Regions from separate parts of the Homo sapiens genome. Here all the other regions are linked to region 3. The links come from fine-mapping of genetic effects on gene expression. A gene starts in region 3. Each other region holds a variant in brackets. All regions are shown on one strand. Distances are from middle to middle.

Region 1 (7,021 bases), 31 kb after region 3:
CTTCTTCAAACCTGAGCACACTCTTACCGTGTGACTTGCAGCCATGCCCCGGCGTATTTATTTAAATGAGTTGAAAACTTAATGTCCACTCAATACCTGCCCATATAGGTGTTGATAGCAGCTTTATTCATAATTGCCAGAACCCAGAAGCAGCCATGATGTCCTTCAGGAGGTGAATGGATGGATAAACTGGGGCCCATTCAGACAGTGGAACATTCAGTGCTAGGAAGAAATGAGCTGCCAAGCCGTGAAAAGACATGGAGGAGCCTTAAATGCATCTTACTGAGCGAGAGAAGCCAACCTGAAAAGGCTGCGCCCGGTGCGATTCCAACCACGTGACATTCTAGAAAACAAAATTATACAGTAACAAGCTCAGGGTTGCTAGGGGTTTGCGGGGGGGAGGGGTGACAGGCGGAGCACGGGATTTTTAGGGCCACGAAATTCCTTGATAATGGTGCATCCATGTCATTACACGCCTGTCCAAACCCATAGAAGGCACAGCACCAGGAGCGAGGCCTCACGCACACCGTGGGCTTTAGTTAGCGACGTACCTCAACATCATTACACGCCTGTCCAAACCCATAGAAGGCACAGCACCAGGAGCGAGGCCTCACGCACACCGTGGGCTTTAGTTAGCGACGTACCTCAGTGTTGGCTCCTCACACAGAAGGCACAGCACCAGGAGCGAGGCCTCACGCACACCGTGGGCTTTAGTTAGTGACATACCTCATTGTTGGCTCCTCACACAGAAGGCACAGCACCAGGAGCGAGGCCTAACACACACCGTGGGCTTTAGTTAGTGACGTACCTCAGTGTTGGCTTCTCAGTTGCAACAAGTGTTCCACTCTGGCAAAGGATGGGGGATAGTGTTGGGGGAGGCTCTCTTTGGGGGTGGGGAGTATATGAGAACTCTCTGTACCTTCCTCTCAATTTTCCTGTGAACCTAAAACTGCTCTAAAAAGTTGTATCTCTTAAAAGCAACCAAACTGGGGTGGGCACGTTGGCTCTTGCCTGTAATCCCAGCACTTTGGGAGGCCGAGGCAGGAGGATCACTTGAGTTCAGGAGTTTGAGACCAGCCTGGGCAACATAGTGCCACCTCGTCTCTATTAAAAATAATAAAACTTAGCCAGGCGTGGTGGCTCATGCCTGTAGTCCTGGCTGCTTGGGAGGCTGAGGTGGGAGGATTGCTTGAGCCCAGGAGGTCAAGGCTGCAGTAAGCTGCGATCGCAATACTGCACTCCAGCGCGGGCAACAGAGCATGACTCTGTCTCAAAAAAAAAAAAAATTAATAACCAAATGGAAATGAATCTCTGCTGCAGACCATATGAAGACAGACACAAGCAGAGGGGCCCTGTGGGTGTGGGGACGGCTCTCAGGCTCAGACAGGCCGTTAGCCGTCTTGATAGCTCGAGATTCAGGCCTGCGAGGTCCACTAGGCTCAGGTGTCTACAAAACTTAGAATTGATAAGAATTAAATAACAACAACAACTGAGGCTCTTGGTCACACTGGCCACCCCAAGTGCAATAGCCATGTGTGACTTGAGCTGTCCTGCGGGCCCTCTAGAACCTCTCCATCATCCTGGAGAGGACCGGGGAGCAGCACCGTTTCTGTCCTGAGGGCCCTCTAGAACCTCTCCATCATCCTGGAGAGGACCGGGGAGCAGCACCGTTTCTGTCCTGAGGGCCCTCTAGAACCTCTCCATCATCCTGGAGAGGACCGGGGAGCAGCACCGTTTCTGTCCTGAGGGCCCTCTAGAACCTCTCCATCATCCTGGAGAGGACCGGGGAGCAGCACCGTTTCTGTCCTGAGGGCCCTCTAGAACCTCTCCATCATCCTGGAGAGGACCGGGGAGCAGCACCGTTTCTGTCCTGAGGGCCCTCTAGAACCTCTCCATCATCCTGGAGAGAACCCGGGAGCAGCACCTTTTCTAGCAGCAGCATTTCGAAGATTGGATTGTCAGGTAACTTCCTCGCCCTTTTTTGCATATAGGCATAACTTAAAATGGGCATGGTCATATTATGTCATAATGATTGGAAACGTAATGTTTCTTAAAGTTTTCTATTTCATAACTTGTTTTAGAAATGTGTGCCTTAATTGATGAGCCAATTACCTGCATACTCACAAGTGTAAAAAGTCAGGTTGGTAAGAAGTCAGTGCCACCAAGGCAGCCCCAATGGCCCTGCTGTGACGGAAACAGTCTGAATCCTGAGGCTTAAATGGCTGCTGCTGTCGGTCAGCATTAGGGGTGTCGTGTCAAGCTGCCGGTGACCCACAAGGGCTGGCCCCTGAATGCAGCAGAGCCTGCAGTTTTCCTGGGAAGTGCAGCTGTGGCCAGAGGGCAGCCTGTCCTGGGCAGGCCAGAGGAGAGGGGCAGGGGAAGAATGGTCCCCAGGTTAGATTTGGGCCGGGCGCTGGCGGGTGGTTAGATTTGGGCCGGGCACTGGCGGGTGGTTAGATTTGGGCTGGATGCCTGTGGGTCGGCACGGGCTGCACTGCCGTCTGTGTTTCCTCCTCCGTGTCATGGCCTTCATGGGTGACTCTCAGAACCTGCCGTCCTGAGTGGGCAGGAGGGGCACAGAGCCTCTCCCTAGGTGCAGCCCTGCCCAGGCCGCCCTTCCCTGCTTCCCTGCCAGCTGCCTACCCAGAGCGCCGGGCCCTTCCCGCCCACCTCCTGGGCTCCACAGGGACCAACGGGCGGAGAACACTGGGCCATGGTGTGTCCAGCGAATGACGGCTACACTGCAGATTCCCCAACAGCTTTTTGAAAGATCCATGTCGTCTCAAACTACAACACGTTGTATCTCCTGAGATGCTTTCAGCAGCCCTTGAGCATCTTTTCTAGTTTGCAAATTGTAGTTTTTCTCATCAGTGTTCTCCTTCAGCTGAATGGCTGGGTTCTGAAGCTGGGGTTTTGAGAAGCGGGAATTCCTTCTGTGGCTGCAGCAGGAGTGTTGTGGGAACCGACCCAGCCCAGCTTGCCTGGCTCCCGCCAGGGCCCTGAGGATGGCACAGGACCTTTTGTGTTGGAAAGGGCTTGGCCGAGCTTGCGGGGGAGCCTCCTGGGTTGCAGGCCGGAAGTCCCAGGTCAGGGTGCTGGCAGGCTGTGTGTGCTCCCCGGGAATGTAGGTCACAGCCTTCCTTGCCTCTTCCAGCGCCCGCCGGCTGTGGGCACTCCCGGGAGTTCCTGCAGCTGCACTGCCAGGTGGCTCCTCGTCCCTGTGCTGGCCTCTGCTGTCATGAGGACACTGCCACACTGGGTTAGCCGAGCCTGCTCTAGCACAGCCTCCTGTAAACCAATTGCACCTGCAGTCACCTGTTTGCAGACGAGCTCACCAGCAGACTGGGGGTGAGGATTTCAGCACAGGGATTTAGGGGACACAATTGAACCTGTCAGGGCTGGTGTCAGAACTAAACTTAGGACCCCAAATGCTGGGATTTTTAAAGGCATTCTGCATTGCACTTCACTAAGGGACCTGGGGAGCTCGGGTGGGGTCTGTGATGCCCAGGATCCCCCAGGGCCCAGGGCAGTGTCTGGGATGGACATGCTCAGCACACACCACCTTGAACGCCCGGCCCCATGCTCACCTCAGAGGGCGGCGCAGCCTCACCATCGATGGAGGCCCCCTTGGAGGTGGGGGTCAGAGGAGCAGCCCAGCTCCAGGCGGCCTCGCCCTCTGTCCTGGGCGCCCGCCGTGGGCACAGCTGTGGGCACCCATGCAGGCAGGGGTGCAGCCTCAGGTGGTTACATTGAGCACAACTTCTTTGAGTTCTTGTAGAAAGGCTATTTTTTTCTTACTGGAACTGAATTCTGAGAGGAATTTGTAACACACATCATTCTGCAGAGTCTATATAACTTGAAAGTCTTTCCCTGCAGTGTTTGCAGAGGATGGAGGGCAGCTCCGCCAGTGTCTGCCAGT[C/CT]TTTCAATGACAGCAGAGAGCTCTTGAATTCCAAGCCCCAAGCCCCTTCCAAGCCCCTCCAAGTCTAAACTAACAAGATTTAAACTTTTGGAGGAATTTCTTGATTGCTTTGATTTCCCTTGTATAGTAGAATTCTACTTAAATTTTACTAGGGGAAAAAGTGAGTTATTTTGGCAAAAAACAGTTTGAAGCTTGCTCATCTGCTCGTCATTCTCTCATTCATTCGCTCACATGATGTGCGTGTCACACATTGCCGCCAACCAGGTTTCCCACTGCACCTTGCTGGGCGGTGAGCAGAGGTGCCGGCTCCGAGAACGCATGCGGTTCTTCTCAGGGTCATACCTGTACCTGGCACACGGGACATGCACTGTCCCAGGTAATCCCACCGGTCTCCCGGGGCTGGTGTCACAGCCCAGGAGGTGGCGTATGGGGAGGGAGTGGAGGGGCCTCGGTGTCTCCTCAGGGCTGTTTCCTGCACACACGGGCTCCTGTTCACGGCCTTCCTTCCTGAAGACTTTAAAGAGAATTCCTTCTTCCTGTATGGGGTACAGTGTGGGTTCCGGTCCCAACAGCTCATGTTTCTCCCCTTGCAGATATTTGAGAGCCTATTTTGTACCAGACATTGTCAAGCTTTTTTAAAAAACAATATTTATAGACTCATGTCTAGGTGTATTTTATCTAATTGTTTGAGTTCAGCGGTAGTAAACTATAATTTCCAAAAAAGAGAGTTGACAATATAAAAATCTAGTGTGATTGTGTCACCGTCTGGATGAATCTGAACATGTGCCTGGCAGTGACTTTTTTTGGGGTGGTCAGAACAGAAACTTTTTTTGGGGTGGGGGACAAGGTGTTGCTCTGTCCCCCAGGCTGCAGTGCGGTGGCGCAATCTCAGCTCACTGCAACTTCCGCTTACTGGGTTCAGGTGATCCTCCCACCTCAGCCTTCGGAGTAGGTGGGACCACAGGTCCACGCCTTCACCCCAGGCTAATTTTTGTACCTTTTTTTTTTTTTAAGAGACGGGGTTTCACTATGTTGTCCAGGCTGGTCTCAAATTCCTGGGCTCAAGCAATTAGTCCTCCTTGGCCTTTGAAAGTGCTGGGATTACACGTGTGAGCCCCTGCGCCCAGCAATACATAAACATTTTCACTGATCATTTTCGTCACGGCATTTAGTCGGCATTGTTTCCGCAGCACGTTTATTTGGCAAACATGATTTTTTCTCCCCAAACGTGAATTCTGTGGAAATGACAGTTGCATTTGGAAAATATTCCAGAAAACAGTTTTTTTGTTTGTTTAACTTTTTACTTTAAAAGGTATTCACCAGTTCATTTCCATAAACTGACTACTTAATGATATGGCAAAAAAAAAAACCCCTTCTGAAATAGGTTTTGTTTACGGTCGCTTGGGAGACAGTGAGGACTGGTTTGAAAGTACATAGTTAACAAGGCTCAAACTCTGGAAATTAGCGGTTCTGTCCATTCCAGCTCTCCCCCTGCTTCGATTGTTTCATTTGATTAGGCTTAAATTCAAAACTTTGAATTTAGAGAAGTCTTTGACCCTCTAGGAAGTGGGTGAGGCTTTGGTATCTGGGCAGAGCAGAGTTCACCATCCAGAAGGACAGCAACACACACTCCTATCAGACGTATGTTTTAAAAATAACACATTTCTGAATCCTTTTTCTTGATTCAATTTTAGTATTTGTCATTCTCATACTTGTAAAACTCGTGAGTGTTGGTGGAAGCAGTTCCAGAAAGCTCGTGGGGTCCCCAGGTGTCATGGTCAGCTGGGGGTCTCATCCCCACCGTCCTTGCAGTGGTAGCTGGATCCAGTTCACGCTGTCGTGGGCCTGGGCCCCTCTGTGTATTTGTGGTGACCTAAAAATCTGTTTCCTTCAAAAGGCACTCCTAGAATGTATGACTAGTTTAGGAGATTCAAAGGAAAATGAAACACCTCAAATTTAAAGGTTGTTTTTAGACCGCTAGAGTTCCCCGGGAGGCGACTTCCCCAGGAGGCTCGGCAGAGAGCGCCTGGAGACTGCGTGGAGTGTAAGTGGGTTGTGTGTCTGTGGGTTGCTCCCTAGCAGGGCTCCCCCTCAGCCCCCTCCGGAGCTGCCTGCAGCCGAGCTGGGCCGTCCTGCTTGGGTGCATCTCCCTGGCCCACGGGGGATTGTCTGTGTTGGAGGGGCTTGGTTTGGGCTGACCCAGGCTCTGTCCCGAGGTGCCACCTGCTTCTGTGGATTGCCGGGCATGGCAGCAGGAGGTTTCCTCAGGAACGTGTGCTGGGAAGAAATCCCAGCCCTTGGGAAAGGCTGGCAGGGGCTGGGTTCCTCTCGCTCCTGGGTGTGCCGGGTGGTGTTGTCCCAGCACATGGGTCTCCTCTGGAAAAAGGAGAAGCACCTGTCTGCTCTGATGGTGGCACACAGTCCTAGCACGCCGTCTCTGCAAATGATGCACACGGCAGGCTGCGCCATCAGCCGTAACCCCGGTCCAAGGAGACCTGTGACTCGCCTCCTGCAAAATGTTTCTTATCAAGCACTTACTTGGAACAGTTATTAACCATGCTCTTTAATAATTATGGAGGTTTGTATTTTAAGCTATATATCGGTGTTCATATTTGACACTGATTTTCTAACCATCAGAGATATTTAATTAAAATTGTAAATAAGAGAGGCAAAATGAAAATAAAAGGAGAAGAATTCTAGGGAGAGATGCAAGGTGTCAGAAGTTATTTCTAAAAGTAAAGTGGATGATACTGAATTCTCTTCCAGACCATCAGCCCAGCCGGGTGATGTTCATCTGCTGGGTGCACAGATTTAAAATGTGAAAAGCTCTTTTTTCCCCTTACTTTCTCTTGTTTTCTTTTCTTTTTTTTTTTTTTTGAGACAGAGTTTTGCCCTGTCACCCAGGCTGGAGTGCAATGGTGCAATCTCGGTTCACTGCAACCTCCGCCTCTCGGGTTCAAGCCATTCTCCTGCCCCACCTTCCTGAGAAGCTGGGATTACAGGTGCCCGCCAACACGCCTGGCTAATTTTTTTATTTTTAGTAGAGATGGGGTTTCACCATGTTGGCCAGGCTGGTCTCAAGCTTCTTACCTTGTGATCTGC
Region 2 (7,021 bases), 82 kb after region 3:
CATTGTGTGGATGTGCCTGAGGGGCCCTACCTCAGGTGTGGGTACTCAGGGCACCCGGGATGGGGCGAGGAGACAGGCTGCAGAGAGTCAGCAGGTACAAGCACATACCCTCCCTCCTGCCTTCTGCCGTAGTCCGTGTGCTGAGTGTAGGTGGATGGGGAGACAGTGTGGAGAGGCCTGGACACCCTCTGTCCCCTTCCTCCCAGTGACTCTCCTGGTCTCTGCTCTCCGGTCTTGCCTGCGTTCTTCCTGGTTAGTGCTCCCAGACCTTCTTTCTAAGACAGGTGCTGTGAAGCCACAGCTGTCCCCTGGCTCAGGCAGTGAAACCGGCTCACCCTGGCTATGCTGGTACTGTCAGTTTCTCCCATGGATCCAGAAACATCCATTGGCCCTGTGACATTTGTCTTTATCCCAGCTACCTATTTCTCTCCGTTGTTGTGCAAAGATAAGTAACAATTTCTGATAATAACAGCAGCGAGAAACTTCACTTTTCTCCTTCCCTGAGCCTCCTTGGGTGGCTGCCAGCCCGGCGGATGCCCCCGGCTGTGCTCAGTGGCCCCACGGCATGTCGGACTCCACCCTGTGCTGGCTGCTGTCTCCATCGCACGCCTAGTCCCCGGTGCCACCACCAGTGTGTGGGTTTGGTGCAGAACTAGTGTTAAGATTGTTCTTTTTTGCCTTGATAGAATTCGTTGTGACTCATAGGAAAACAAATGTATAGAATAGTTTATATTCATTACAAACTGGAAACATTTAATCATTTATGCAATGTCCTTTCCAGATTTTAAAAAAAGGTTTAAAAAGATAAGCACGCTGTTGAATTCCATGACTACTAATATTCCTATAAACATGTCAAAGATGGTAGGCAAGACGCAGAACCACATTTTTTTTTCTCACTCTAAGTTCTGGGATATGTGTGCAGAATGTGCAGGTTTGTTCCATAGGTATACCTGTGCCATGGTGGGCTGCTGCACCTAGCAACCCGTCATCTAGGTTTTAAGCCCCGCGTGCATTAGGTATTTGTCTTAATGCTCTCCCTCCCCTCACCCCCCGCCCCGCAACAGGCCCCGGTGTGTGATGCGCCCCTCCCTGTGTCCATGTGATCTCATTGCAGAACCACATTTAATTCTGAGAAAGAGTGTTTCAAGTTCACGTTTGCCCCTTCAGCAAACGTCAGCGTGTCGAATGTGAACGAAAGCTGGGAAACAAAAGGCCCTGCATAAAACCAAGGTGACAGAAATGTCCTTTTGTTACTGCCTGTTAACGTTTATCCTGTGATTGGCAGCAGTGCGTCATTTTTTGCTGGCTGTTGTTGTTGATTTGTGCCACATACCCTCCCTTTGACCTCCTCGTGCTTGTCTGAAACCTTAACTGGGAGAAGAGGTAGCTCAACTCCCTTTTTTTAAAGACTACTTTTTAAGAGAAATTTTAGGGTCGCAGCAAAATTGAGCGGAAAGTACAGAGGTTTCCCATCTACCCCTCCCCTAACATGCATAGCCCCCTCCCCCCACATCTCCACCAGAGTGCATTTGTGACAACCAGGAGCCTGCGTGGCCACGCAGCCACTGCCCAGCGGCCACAGTCGCAGGAGGGCGTACCCTTGTGCTGTGCATTCGGTGGGTTCGGATGAACGTTTAGTGACATGGACCCACCACGATAGTGTCATGCATCTTTGCCGCCCTAAAATCAGGTTCCTTTGTCACTGTGAGAGAGACTCGATCCTGCTGTGTGAGTTGACACCATGGGTGCAGTATTCGGCACCACAGTACTCCTGCACATTGGAAACTGGGAGACTGGTGTTTTGAAGAAAGTAGCTGGACCCATCTGTGCATGGGTTCATCTGTCTGACTCAACTTGAGAAGGAGAATCTATCATCATCGTGAGCATCGTTCCAAGTGCACAGTATTTCTGAGATTGTGATATGTTCATATTTAGCGTGTCCTTTATTGTACAGTGCTATTTTTTCAATTTTGTTTTTGCAAAGGAAGCTGTTCAGATGTTCAGCCAAGTCGTGACTCACTCAGCTCATCATCCCTTCCCAAGAACTGACTTTATTTTTCCCCAGGATGGCAGATGCCACTGCCTCCTTTCCATTGTCAGCTGGCGGGTGACGCGACTGTTGTTGCACTGGGAGTGTCCACGTGGTAACTGCCCACCTCTCCCCTGTTGCTTGTAGGACATGCTGAAGAACACCTCCAAAGGCCACCCCGACAGGCTGCCTCTTCAGATGGCCCTGACAGAGCTCGAAACACTAGCAGAGAAGTTAAATGAAAGAAAGAGAGATGCTGATCAACGCTGTGAAGTGAAGCAAATAGCCAAAGCCATAAACGAAAGATACCTGAACAAGGTTGAGAGAGGTTTTCTTCAACTCTATTCCAAAATTATTTTTGCTTTGTGCTAATAAGCTGTCGTTGTCCAGCAATACTAATCTTTTGGATCGTTTGGAGTAATTCCCTTCGCCCAGAGTTCTTAACCGGGGTGGATGGAGGCCTTCGGGAGAGTCACACCAATGTGGAAATTGTATGTAAAACCTTAACAGCCTGTCTTAACAGCATTTTCTTAGGAAAGAGATTCATACATTCATTAGACCCTCAAATGGATCCAGGACCTCCCAAGGGGTTAAGAGCAACTCCTTTAGCTTACTTTTCCTTTCAAAATAACGGTATTTAATTTCAGATAGTAATAGTTAAAGCTGAAAATATTTACAGGCTAGGCACAGTGGCTCACACCTGTAAGCCCAGCACTTTGGGAGGCTGAGGTGGGAAGATCGCTGGAACCCAGGAGTTCAAGACCAGCCTGGGCATGATAGTGAGAACCCATATCTAAAAAAAGAAAAAAAAAATAGCTGGGCACAGTGGCATGCACCTATATAGTCTGAGCTACGTGGGAGGCTGAGGCCAGAGGATTGCTCGAGCCTGGGAGGTCCAGGCTGTGGTGAGCTGTTATTGAGGTGCTGCACTCTAGCCTGGGTGATGGAGCAAAACCCTGTTTCAAAAAAAAAAAAAATTCACAAACATTTTTTGTCTTCACCTATGCATGGGCTAAGCTGCATTGAGCGTGAAAAGAGATGCAGGACCCAGAAGGCGGCAGTTCATTTGCCAGGCTACATTTCAGCTTGATGCTTACATAACTACTTGTCTGCAGCAGTACTCTGAATTTATGTGGGCTTTCCCGTATTCACTGAAGGCCCTGGCTCACAGGGAGATGGTAATTTGTATGAACTGTGTTAAGTTATTGCATCTAATATTCATTATTGCTAAAAATCATTATTGCTACAAATCATTGTTTTGTCATTAGGAGTAGTTTCTTACGTTACAATGACATTCAGTAATGTAACTGTGCGAACTTTATGGTAATACACTTTAAGCCACATATTTTCCCCATTTCTCCAAGTGGTTTATGTAGGAACGTTTATAAGCAGCAAATTGTATTCAGTTATATTCTTGACATGGTTCATGTTATTTAAAATCATGCTCCCTGTGGCACTTGAACCTCCGAATACACATGGGGCACGGAGCAAGCCCAGAGGCCCAGGAAGAGGGGATGATGCTTCGCACTGAATGTCACCCACATGCCTCATCGTTCCCGTGCACTTGGCAGGGACATTCAGGGAGGCGGGTGTCTCGCTGGTTGCTCAGAGCTGGGCAGCAGCGTAGGTTTAGAATCAAAAGACAGCACAGACCACCGGGGCTGAGGACTCTGTTTTTCTTGTGGGCTGAGTTGT[T/TA]ATAAGTATTGGCCGGGTGCAGTGGCTCACGCCTGTAATCCCAGCTCTTTGGGAGGCCGAGGTGGGTGGATCACGTGAGGTCAGGAGTTCCGGACCAGCCTAACCAACATGACAAAACCCCGTCTCTACTAAAAATACAAAAAGAAACAAATTAGCTGGGTGTGGTGGTGCACACCTGTGGTCCCAGCTACTCGAGAGGCTGAGGCACGAGAATCAATTGAACCCAGGAGGTGGAGGTTGCAGTGAGTTGAGATTGTGCGGCTGCACTCCAGCCTGGGTAACAGAGCGAGGCTTGGTCTCAGAACAAACAAACAAAAAAGGTAGTGTGACTTCTACATCGCATACCATTGTCTTGGTTCATACAAAGCGTCTTTCTGAAGAACTGATGGTTTTGCTTTGGCTCAGTGAAGTAAAATATGGCCTACCTTTAAGAAGTTAAGATAGTCATTTAACTATGCTTAATTAGGTTTACTTGGGGAAAAGTAAAATTACAAAACAATTCCTTGCATTCCTCACCGTTCCTGGTTAATGTAGTGTTTAAATCGCGGGAGGGCCAACTGCGGTGAAAGTCTGTGAGGAAGGAGGCGGATGTTCAGCGCAGTCACGGGGAACATAGGAACGATTTCCGTAAAGCGCTCAGTTTGGAAAAGTCACCCTGAGACTCCATACCAGACTTCTCCTCATCTTTTTCTTTTCCGGGTAAACTGAACTGTGGTCCCTGGGCTGTGTTTTGAATGTCCAGCTTCTCAGCAGTGGAAGCCGATACCTCATTCGATCAGATGATATGATAGAAACAGTTTACAACGACAGAGGAGAGATTGTTAAAACCAAAGAACGCCGAGTCTTCATGTTAAATGATGTGTTAATGTGTGCCACCGTCAGCTCACGGTAAGTGCATAAATTCTCTATAGTAGTCCTACCATCATCACATGTTACCTTTGCCTAAGGGCACATGCATGACTTTGTTAATTCTGTCACTCAGACTGAACTGGTTTTTTGTGCCAAAGCTCTGTCCTGTGACTAAGGGAACCCTTATAATAAGCAAGCTTATTTTTAAATAGATTCAGTGTAAGTCACCAAGTCACTGTTAGTAGAAGTACGTAGAGGTTTATATACTCTTTAAACAGGGCTGATGGCGGAACTAGAAACTCAATTGAATTTCTTCATAACCCTCCTAAATCAAGAGTTCTTTTTCTTATGGTTTAAATTCTCTCTTTACCTGCTTCTCTATAAATATATTTTTGATAAATGTTTAAATATAATAAAGTTGGGTATATTCATATTTATTGTAAACCAAGAAAATGAGTTATTTTCACTTAAAATAGTTTTACATCAGAATCGTTCTCCAATGCATGGAATATTGTAGTGAGATGAGGATATGTGAGAAACTAAAAGGTCTTCAAATACAGGTAGATGATAAGGGAACTGATATAAAGTTAACTATAACACTCCTGGTGCTGTAGAAAATAATGCAAGCGAACGTGGTGCCAATTCGTCATGTCTTGCAAGAGTCAAGTGTTGAATCTTCCAGAGTTTTGAGATCCAGTTGCTAAACATTTGGTAGCTTGAAGTCATCCACACGGGAACATTTACAGCATGGAATTTGCCCAACACGATGTGTTAGGAGCCTGTCCTCCCAGTGAGAGCCAGCTGTTAAACGTTTGCCAGCACACCACTAAACATGCCCTATTTTTCATGCCCGTCGCCCCCATTTTCCAGCGGCCAGATATATCTGCCTGCCCTCCTCACCTTGCCTTAGAGACCCAGGCAGCGAGGGTGTGCAGGTCAGCGCTCAGGAGTCGGACTCCTTAGTGTGAACTGCACATCCACCTTCTCTGAACTCTGAAAATTACCCTCTCTGACTTTGCCTCGGACTCCTCATCCGTGCAATAGGGTTGATCATAAAAATAATGCCAGTGGTACGCTCTTGCGGGTCTCTTCAGGGATCAAGGCGAGAACGTTCATTAAGCTGCTGCAGGGCACCTGGCACACGGCACTGCCTGCGAGGGACAGGTTTTCATTGTTGCTTTTCATCATCGTCAGTGACTTTGTGGCAGCTACAAAATAAGTCCAAAAAATATGTGAGTCTTTAATGACACTCCTTCTTGTAAGAGAAAGAACCCTGTTCATTTGACTCATACCCCATGGCTTGGCCTTCACTGTGGACGCCTGGCGACAGCCGCAGGCCACCTGCCTTCTGTGTGCAGAAGTGAAGCCCACTGCACCCTGCGTTGGAGAGGAGCTGACGGAGTGAGGCCGTGGGAGGTCGCAGCTGGAGAACTCCAGGTGTGGGCTGCTCTAGAGGATGCTTAGAATTGCGAGGATGCAGAGTAAGGTGTCTCCACCCGTTTCCCTGGTGTTATGAGGTGCTTCCCATAGTGTGGAGACTAAAGGTGTTTATCACTTAACAGTATGGCTTCCAAGTTTAACTGTCCCAGAACCCCCCTCTCCATGTAACACCTGGAAAGTTAGTTTTCAGTGAAGTGGCCCCACTGTGGCTGAATCCACCCAGCTCCTCACCTGCAAGTTGGCCCACACGATGTGTCAAGTTGGGGACATTAATGCTTGTTCCACCTGCCCTGGGAGACAAGATCATAGAAGTGAAATGACCTTGTAAACGGCAAAGTCCTAAGCAAATATAATGGTCCTTGTTGAGTCTTTTCCGCATTCATCACTGATGTTTGTCTGACACTGACTGCTGCTCCAGAACCCCTCAGGCTGCTGTTGGGGAGCGCCAGGACACACTTGACTCTTGGGCAGTTTTAAGTACGTTTAAAATTCTCCCGCTGCCAGACGTGGTGTACTTTAAAGATGAATTAAAATGGATACTTTAAAAGTAACTCAGCTGTGCTTACTGCTAGAGGATTCCTTAAAATAACGCCCCTGCCTTTCCCACGATGCCAGGGCTTGAATTTCTTTTTTTGCGAAGTGCAGTGGTGAGTCGCAATTCCTTTCCCATGGACATGTTGTCAGTGTGAGATTTTCAGCGACAGTGCCCGAAGGTGATGAGATGAGAATGCATTTTGTTTCAAATAGCTCCCAAGGACCCTTTGGTCGGCCCTGTGAACATTAAGATTCTAAACCTCCTCTGTAGGGATGGAGATTTTTACATTCAAAGAGGAGGAATCGGAATTTTGGTAAGAACTCATGGGCATTTCTGTTTTTCTAAATTGGAGGCACAGTCTAATTCACGGAACACAACCCATCTTTCCTCTTACTGTGTCTGAATTGTTCTTCCTCCTTTCCCTTCCTGTATGGACTGGATGTCCTCATGGAGGGCAGAGTGCTCTGGTGTAA
Region 3 (7,021 bases):
CCCTCACTGGTAGGAGGGGTGAACAGCCCCCTGGCACTTCTACAAGGGCACTAAGCCCATCCCTCATGACCCACTAACCTCCTCAAGGCCCCACCTCTTACTGCTATCACGTTGGTGATGAACTTTCAGTCATCAAGGGGGATGCATTGAGGCCACTGTATATATCCCATGAAGTAGCTTACTCTTGTGTTCGGCTTGATTCTATTTACAAAGTGAACACACCCATGTGTCTGCAAATCAAATCAAGATGTAGTCACCGTTTTCATCACTCCCCAGAATTCCTTTGTCTTTTCTGAGACAATACCCCCAAAAATAACCACTGTTCTGATTCCTATTATTATAGGTTGGTTTGGCACATTCTTGAATTTCATAAAAATTGAATCATACTATATGTGCCCTTTTGTCTATGTTTTTCATGTTTTCAAGATTCATTGTTATTGAACATATCAGTTTCTTCCTTTTTATTACTGTATTATTAGTATTCTATTATTCTATGAAGATACAATACTTTATGAGTTCACCTGTTGATGGAATTTGGGTTGTTTCCAGTTGCGAAGTATTTGAACTGTTTTGAAGAAAGAATTCTTGTAAAAATCATTTTTTTTTTTTGAGACAGGGTCTTGCTCTGTCCACCCAGGCTAGAGTGCAGTGGTGGTGAACATGACTCATTACAGCCTTGACCTCCCAGCCTCAAGCGATCCTCCCACTTCAGCTTCCTAAGTAGCTGGGACTGGAGGTGGAGACTATCATGCTAGACTCCTGGGCTCAAGCAATCCTCCACCTTGGCCTCCTAAAGTGCTGGGGTTACAGGTGGGAGTCACCATGTCTGGCTGTAAAAGTCTTTTAAGGGACTTATGTTTTCACTTGCCTTGGGCAAACCTAAAAGTGGGATTGCTGAGAAATGGGCAAACAATTAATCAGAGTGGTTGCGCCATTTGCACTCTCATCGCCTTGTATAGTGGTTCCAGGGGCTCCACATTTTTACCCTTGCCATGTCGGTCTGCAGTTTCAGCCGTGCTTGGATGACGGTGGTGGCATCTCATTGTGAGTTTACTTTGGGTAACACTGAGCACTATTTCCTGTTCTTGTTGGCTATCAGTACATCTTTGGTGAAGTATTTACGTCTTTTGTTTATTTTTAAATAGACTTGTTATTGTTATTTACAGGCTTGTTATTGTTATATTGTTTTGTCCCTTTTGAAATAGACTTGTCTTGTTATTGTTCATTTGCAGGAGTTCTCTATTTACCAGGACTATGGTTTGAACGCGTTTTCCCCAAAGTTTATGTGTTGGAAACTTGACCCCCAATGCAGCAGTGTTGGAAGGTGCCTACTAGGTGGTGTCTGGGTCATGGGGGTATGACCCTCATGGATGGATAAATGCCATGACTGAGGCGGTGGGCTCCTTATAAAAGAATGAGTTTGGGTGAAACCTCGTCTCTACTAAAAATACAAAAATTAGCTGGGTGTGGTGGCACATACCTGTAATCCCAGCTACTCGGGAGGCTGAGGCAGAATAGCTTGAACCAGGGAGTCGGAGGTTGCAGTGAGCAGAGATCGCACCACTGCACTCCAGCCTGATGACAGAGCAAGACTCCGTCTCAAAAAAAAAAAAAAAAAAGATAAGTTTGGCCCATTTTGCATCCTCCCTCCCCACCTCCGCCTCCCACCTTCCGTCATGGGATGATGCAGCCCGAAGGTTCTTGCCAGATGTGGCTCCTTGATCTTGAACTTCCCAGCCTCCAGAACTGTGAGAAATAAATTTCTTTTCATTGTAAATCACCCATTCCCAGGTATTCTGTTACAGCAGCACAACGTGGATTAAGACAAGCCATTTGTGGGATATATGCATTGCCCCTGTGTTCTCCCAGTCTGTGGCTTGCCTTTTCATTTTCTTAATGATGTCATGAGATGAGTAGAAATATTAAATTTTGATAAGCCATTTAATCATTTTTAAATGGTCGGTCCATTTTCTGTCTTACCTGAAGATCCGTAAGATCTTTTCTTATATTTTATCCTAGCAACTTTATAATTTTTACACTTAAGTCTATGATCCATCTGAAATTCCTAAATTCTATTTTAATCCTAATAGTTTATTTGTAGATAATTTTGTTTTTTAACATATATAATCATATTGACTGTAAATAATCAGTTTTTCCTCCCTCAATCCTTACACTTTTTGTTTTTATGACCTACAACACTTGTTAGATGCTGCAGGACAATGCTGAATAGACTACGGAGAGTCAAAGATTTTCATACACCCTTATCAGTACAAGTAGATAAAAAGTACAAGTAGATAAAAAGTACAAGTAGATAAAAAAATCAGTAACAAATATGACCTAATTGACATCTGTAGAACTTTATGTCAGTGAAAGCATGTTCTCAGCAAGTGCTCATAGAACATTTACCAAAATAGACAATGTTGGGCCATGAAGCAAGTGTTTGAAAATCTTAAACGACAAAAATAAAACAGCTGATGTTTTAAGGCCCGGTGGAATTAAACTTTAGTTACAATAAAAAGAAAACCAGAAAGTCCCCATATATTTGAAAGGTGAACCTAACTTTTCTAAATATCCCATGGGTCAAAGAGGGAATCACAATGGAAAATCCCAACTCTTCCATATCCGGGCTTACGAAAATAGGGATGTATCTGTGAGGAACGCCTGAATAAAGCAGACAGACAGGATCTATTGGAGCTCCAAATCAGGGGATTTTCTGCCCAACCTGCCTGGAAGGCATTGCTCTGTGGCCCTACTCAGTGGTGTCCCTGGCGGCCCTGAGTTTAGGGGCTCAATTTCATCCATTGAGAAAATGAGTTGTTTATTCCATACACAGGACTATTTCCTCTTATCTCTACCTTTTTAGAAAACACTACAAGTATCAGGATTTTCTCATCGTATTTAGGTAAACAAGAACTAATTTAGTTGACCTTCTTACTTCTGTTGATCAAGACCATTGATCTGACCATTGATCTGTGCAGAAGATCTCTGAATAAGGTACCCAGAGAACCCTAGGAATAGAAACCTGAAATAAGTTTTCTAATCTTAAGGTCGCTGAGAGCAAATACCTTTTTCAATTGATTCATAAAAACAACTCAGTCTGATTTCATAAAATTAGCAAGTGTGAATAATAAACATTGAAAAAATATCACCTTACCTACGATTATTTTTTCCAGCCATTGTAGTCTTTCTATGTTGGCTATGATTTTTACATAGTCCAAAATTTTCAGGGAAATAACTTATTCCAGAGCACACAAGCCTTAAGGGCAGTTAATGTTTAGATTAATTTCGTGATACTTAGCATCCCAAATAGCTGTTTGTATTTCTTCTATAAAACAAGTGAAAGGGGCTAGAAATCTCTAAGAAGTCTGACAGTTCTAAAACACTGACTTAAAATTACTTCTATGATTCGGAGATTTGGGTAGGAGAAGGCATAGAAATAAATCTAGCATCTGCGAACACACTTGTTAAATGTGCTGACCAGGTAAAAGATAACATCCTTTAGTTATTTTGGTTAAAAATGTCTTTGTTTCTCGTTTTTTTTTTTCTTTAATAGTAATTATAACGATAATCTGTTTCCTTTTTAAAAGTATAAGACAAATAAATGCTCAAAGTAAACAATTCCAATAACTCAGAAGGGGCCATTCCCTGGAAAGGTCCCGGGAAAAACGAGCGCTTCCTGGCAAGAAGCAAGCTTCAAAAACTGCCTCGGAAACGTGGCTGAAGTCATCGCATTTCCAAACGCCCAAGCCTTGGCTGGTCCAGGGCAGCTGGCGCGGAAGACCCGGAACGCCCTGTGGGCAGGGCCAGCTGCGGACGGAGGGACGGGGGCTCAAGGGCGGGTCGGGTGGGGTCCCGACGCCCCCTCCTCGGCTGGGCGCACCCCGGGTGTCCGCAGGGAGGGGCGATGTTCTGGGGGGGGGAGCGTCTGCCCGACGCCCCCTCCCTCAGGTGAGCTCAGCCCGTGGGGGTCCGCAGAAAGGGCGGTGCTCTGGGAGAGGGTTAGGGTCTGCCCGGCGCACCCTCCCCAAGGGGCGCAGCTCTGAGCCGGGAGCAGGCTCTGCGGGGAGGATCCAGATGTTGGGGGCGGGGAGGGCACTCGGTCTGCCCAGCGACCCCTCCCGAAGTGAGCGCGGCCCGGGGTCCGCGGGGCAGGAGATGATCCGGGGGCGGGAGCCTCTGCCGCGCGCCCCCTCCCACGCGTGCGCAGCCTGGGCCGGGCGTTGGGCAGCGGGAGGGGGCGCGGGCGGCCACGTGGCCTCGAAGGAATGCGCGGGCGCGAGGGCAGGGCGCTGCCGAGAAACCGGCAGGCTCTGCGGCCAATGGGCGCCCGGAACGGTCTGGGCCCGCCAATGACAGCATGGTGGGTGGAGCAGGCCGTCCGGGCGGGAGGGGCTGGGCGCATCCCTGTAGCCGGCGGGCGCGCGATCCGGGACGGACGGGGTCGCGGGGGACGCGGGGGACGCGGGGGACGGCGGGGAACGGCGGGGGACGGCGGGGAACAGCGGGGGACGGCGGGGAACAGCGGGGGACGGCGGGGAACAGCAGGGGACTGCGGGTCGCGTCCTGGCCGCCGAGGTGAGTGCGGGCCCCGCGGACCGTGGGTCCCCTCGCGGGCTTCTGGTTTCCTTTGAGAGTTGCACTTCTGCCCGGCTCCCCCGAAATCGCTGGGTCCCACCCGGAGGTGGCTGCGCCCCCGACCCCCTGCGCAGATGTTTCAGGGAAGGGGCTGAGACCCCCTCCCCCCGAGCAGCTCCCCCTTCCGCGGCGCCCCCGGCCCCTCAGGATAACGGCGCGGGCCTGGGCGGGGGGAGCAGGGACTGGCAGCAGGGACCCCTGGCCCCAGGGGCAGGAGCGAACTCCGATCGGCGGAAGGAGCCCGAGGGGCGAGCTGGCTTCGCCTGGGGGGTCGTGCAGTAACTTAGATTTTCCGGTAAAGGAGAAGAATGCGGTCCGCCTCAGGATGCAGAGAAGGACCGGTGTAAGGAAAGCCGGCGTCTTTCCCCCGCACCCTACCTGTCCCCCTACCCCACCAGTTCCCCGCACCCCGTGTACCCCGCCTGTCCCTCAGCACCCCCTGTTCACTCTGCACTCCACCAGTTCCCCGCACCCCAGCTGTCCCCCCGCACCCCACCTGTTTACCCTGCACCCCAGCTGTCCCCCGCGCCGCAGCTGTCCCCCCCACACCCCACCTATTCCCCCGCACCCCGCCTGTCCCCCCGCACCCTACCTGTTTATTCTGCACCCCACCTGTCCCCTCGCACCCCACCTGTTCCCCCTGCACCCCACCTGTCTTCCCCACACCCCACCTGTTTACTCTGCACCCCAGCTGTCCCCCCACACCCCACCAGTTCCCCGCACCCCGTGTACCCCGCCTGTCCCTCAGCACCCCATGTTAACTCTGCACTCCACCAGTTCCCCGCACCCCACCTGTCCCCTCGCACCCCACCTGTCCTCCCCACACCCCACCTGTTTACTCTGCACCCCAGCTGTCCCCCCACACCCCACCTGTTCACCCGCACTCCACCTGTCCCCCCGCACTCCACCTGTCCCCCCGCACCCCACCTGTCCCCCCTGCACCTCACCTGTCCCCCCGCACCCCACCTGTCCCCCCGCACCCCACCTGTCCCCCCGCACTCCACCTGTCCCCCCGCACCCCACCTGTCCCCCCGCACCCCACCTGTCCCCCCGCACCCCACCTGTCCCCCGCACCCCACCTGTTCACCTGCACCCCACCTGTCCCCCCGCACCCCACCTGTCTCCCCGTACCCCACCTGTTCCCCCGCACCCCACCTGTCCTCGCACCCCACCTCTCTCCCTGAACCCCACCTGTCCCCTGCACCTCAACTGTCCTGCACCCCACCTGTCCCCCTGATCCCCACCTGTCCTCTGCACCTCACCTGTCCCCCTACACCTCACCTGTTTACCCTGCACCCCAGCTGTCCCTCGCACCCCAGCTGTCCCCCCCGTACTCCACCTGTTCCCCTGCACCCCACAGCCCGCTGGTGCCCAAGAAGCCAAGGTAGATTCTGAGGAAACTGCCCTAGGTCCACAGACGCCCTGCCCACCTGTCCCAGCCCCACTCCCCTTCCATGGGCCCCTGGGCACTGAAGGTGAGGTCTGAGTACCCCTCCCGACTGTGGCCAGTAGGTCATGTTCCCAGGCAGCAGTAGACGAACTTGCTGTTGTCTGATATTGATTCCAGTCACTAACTTTGGCTGCAAGTAAAAATTCTCATTGACTCAAGATGTAACGGGTTTTAATTCTTTTCTCTGGTTAACCATAACCTGAGTACGGACTGGTCAGTATTCTAGATTCTGTGCAGGAGTGACTTAATGTCCATATGGGTGGAATGCTGCAAGGAGGAACAATTTCACTGTTGCTGATTAATAATATGTTTTGAACACCTGCTTTATAGAAAATAATTTTTATTCGAAAAGAGAGATGATTACTGAGGTTTACACGTCATGTATTTTTAAAAACACACTTTGTCCCTGTCTGTCTCTCACAGCATTTATTTGCTGGCTTTAGCAGCCAACATCGGCAGTTACGGATGCATAACTCTTTATAGACAGATGAGACCTCCAGGATTTCTCAGCAGTAAGAAAAGTCATTTGTATAAGGTGCTATTTGTAATTCATTAGTTGTAGACAGTTGGGGGTGAAGTGAAGTTAAAAGTTATTCAGAATAGCTTTTTATGTTTTTAAAAGTTGATGCTTGACTTCCAGATGTAACCACATTTGTCTTCTGGGTGCTTTGGTGTGCTGCCTTTCCTCTGCAGTTTGTGTGTGCATACGTGTGCGTGTGTCTTTGTGTATGTGTTTGTGTTTGTATGCATGTGTGTGCGTTTGTGTGTGCGTGTGTTTGTGTGTGTGCTGTGTGTGTGTGCGCTTTGTGTGTGTGTGTGTGCGCGTGTGTGAGTTGTAGATAGAGGCGTTGGGTGGTGTGGAGGGTGTGGAGTTACAGACCTGGGTTGAGGTGGGGAAGCTTTTCCCTGGCCCTGTGAGTCCAGACTTCTCACGGG

Direction of the effects. Alleles are on the strand shown, and positions count from the first base shown. SD is a standard deviation of normalised expression in the study named. Not every link is listed here.
With allele TA in place of T in region 2, the expression in fibroblasts of the gene that starts at base 4,388 in region 3 is higher (small effect, 0.37 SD a copy in GTEx).

The links. PIP is the estimated chance that this variant, and not a neighbour inherited with it, causes the effect.
Region 1: its variant is fine-mapped to the expression of ARHGEF10 in whole blood (TOPMed, PIP above 0.99).
Region 2: its variant is fine-mapped to the expression of ARHGEF10 in fibroblasts (GTEx, PIP 0.97).

Annotation. Positions count from the first base shown.
Region 1 is chr8:1,850,642-1,857,662 of GRCh38, forward strand. All of the region lies in intron 2 of ARHGEF10 (Rho guanine nucleotide exchange factor 10), which reads left to right. Among named protein-coding and RNA genes, the nearest start is that of ARHGEF10, 30 kb to the left of the region's middle. The variant C/CT (reference allele first, on the strand shown) is at 3,920.
Region 2 is chr8:1,901,105-1,908,125 of GRCh38, forward strand. It overlaps ARHGEF10 (Rho guanine nucleotide exchange factor 10), which reads left to right. Exons shown (of 29, transcript NM_014629.4): 16 at 2,177-2,347; 17 at 4,467-4,612. Among named protein-coding and RNA genes, the nearest start is that of KBTBD11-OT1, 67 kb to the right of the region's middle. RefSeq lists an enhancer at 5,172-6,371. The variant T/TA (reference allele first, on the strand shown) is at 3,725.
Region 3 is chr8:1,819,539-1,826,559 of GRCh38, forward strand. ARHGEF10 (Rho guanine nucleotide exchange factor 10) reads left to right here and starts at 4,388. Exons shown (of 29, transcript NM_014629.4): 1 at 4,388-4,575.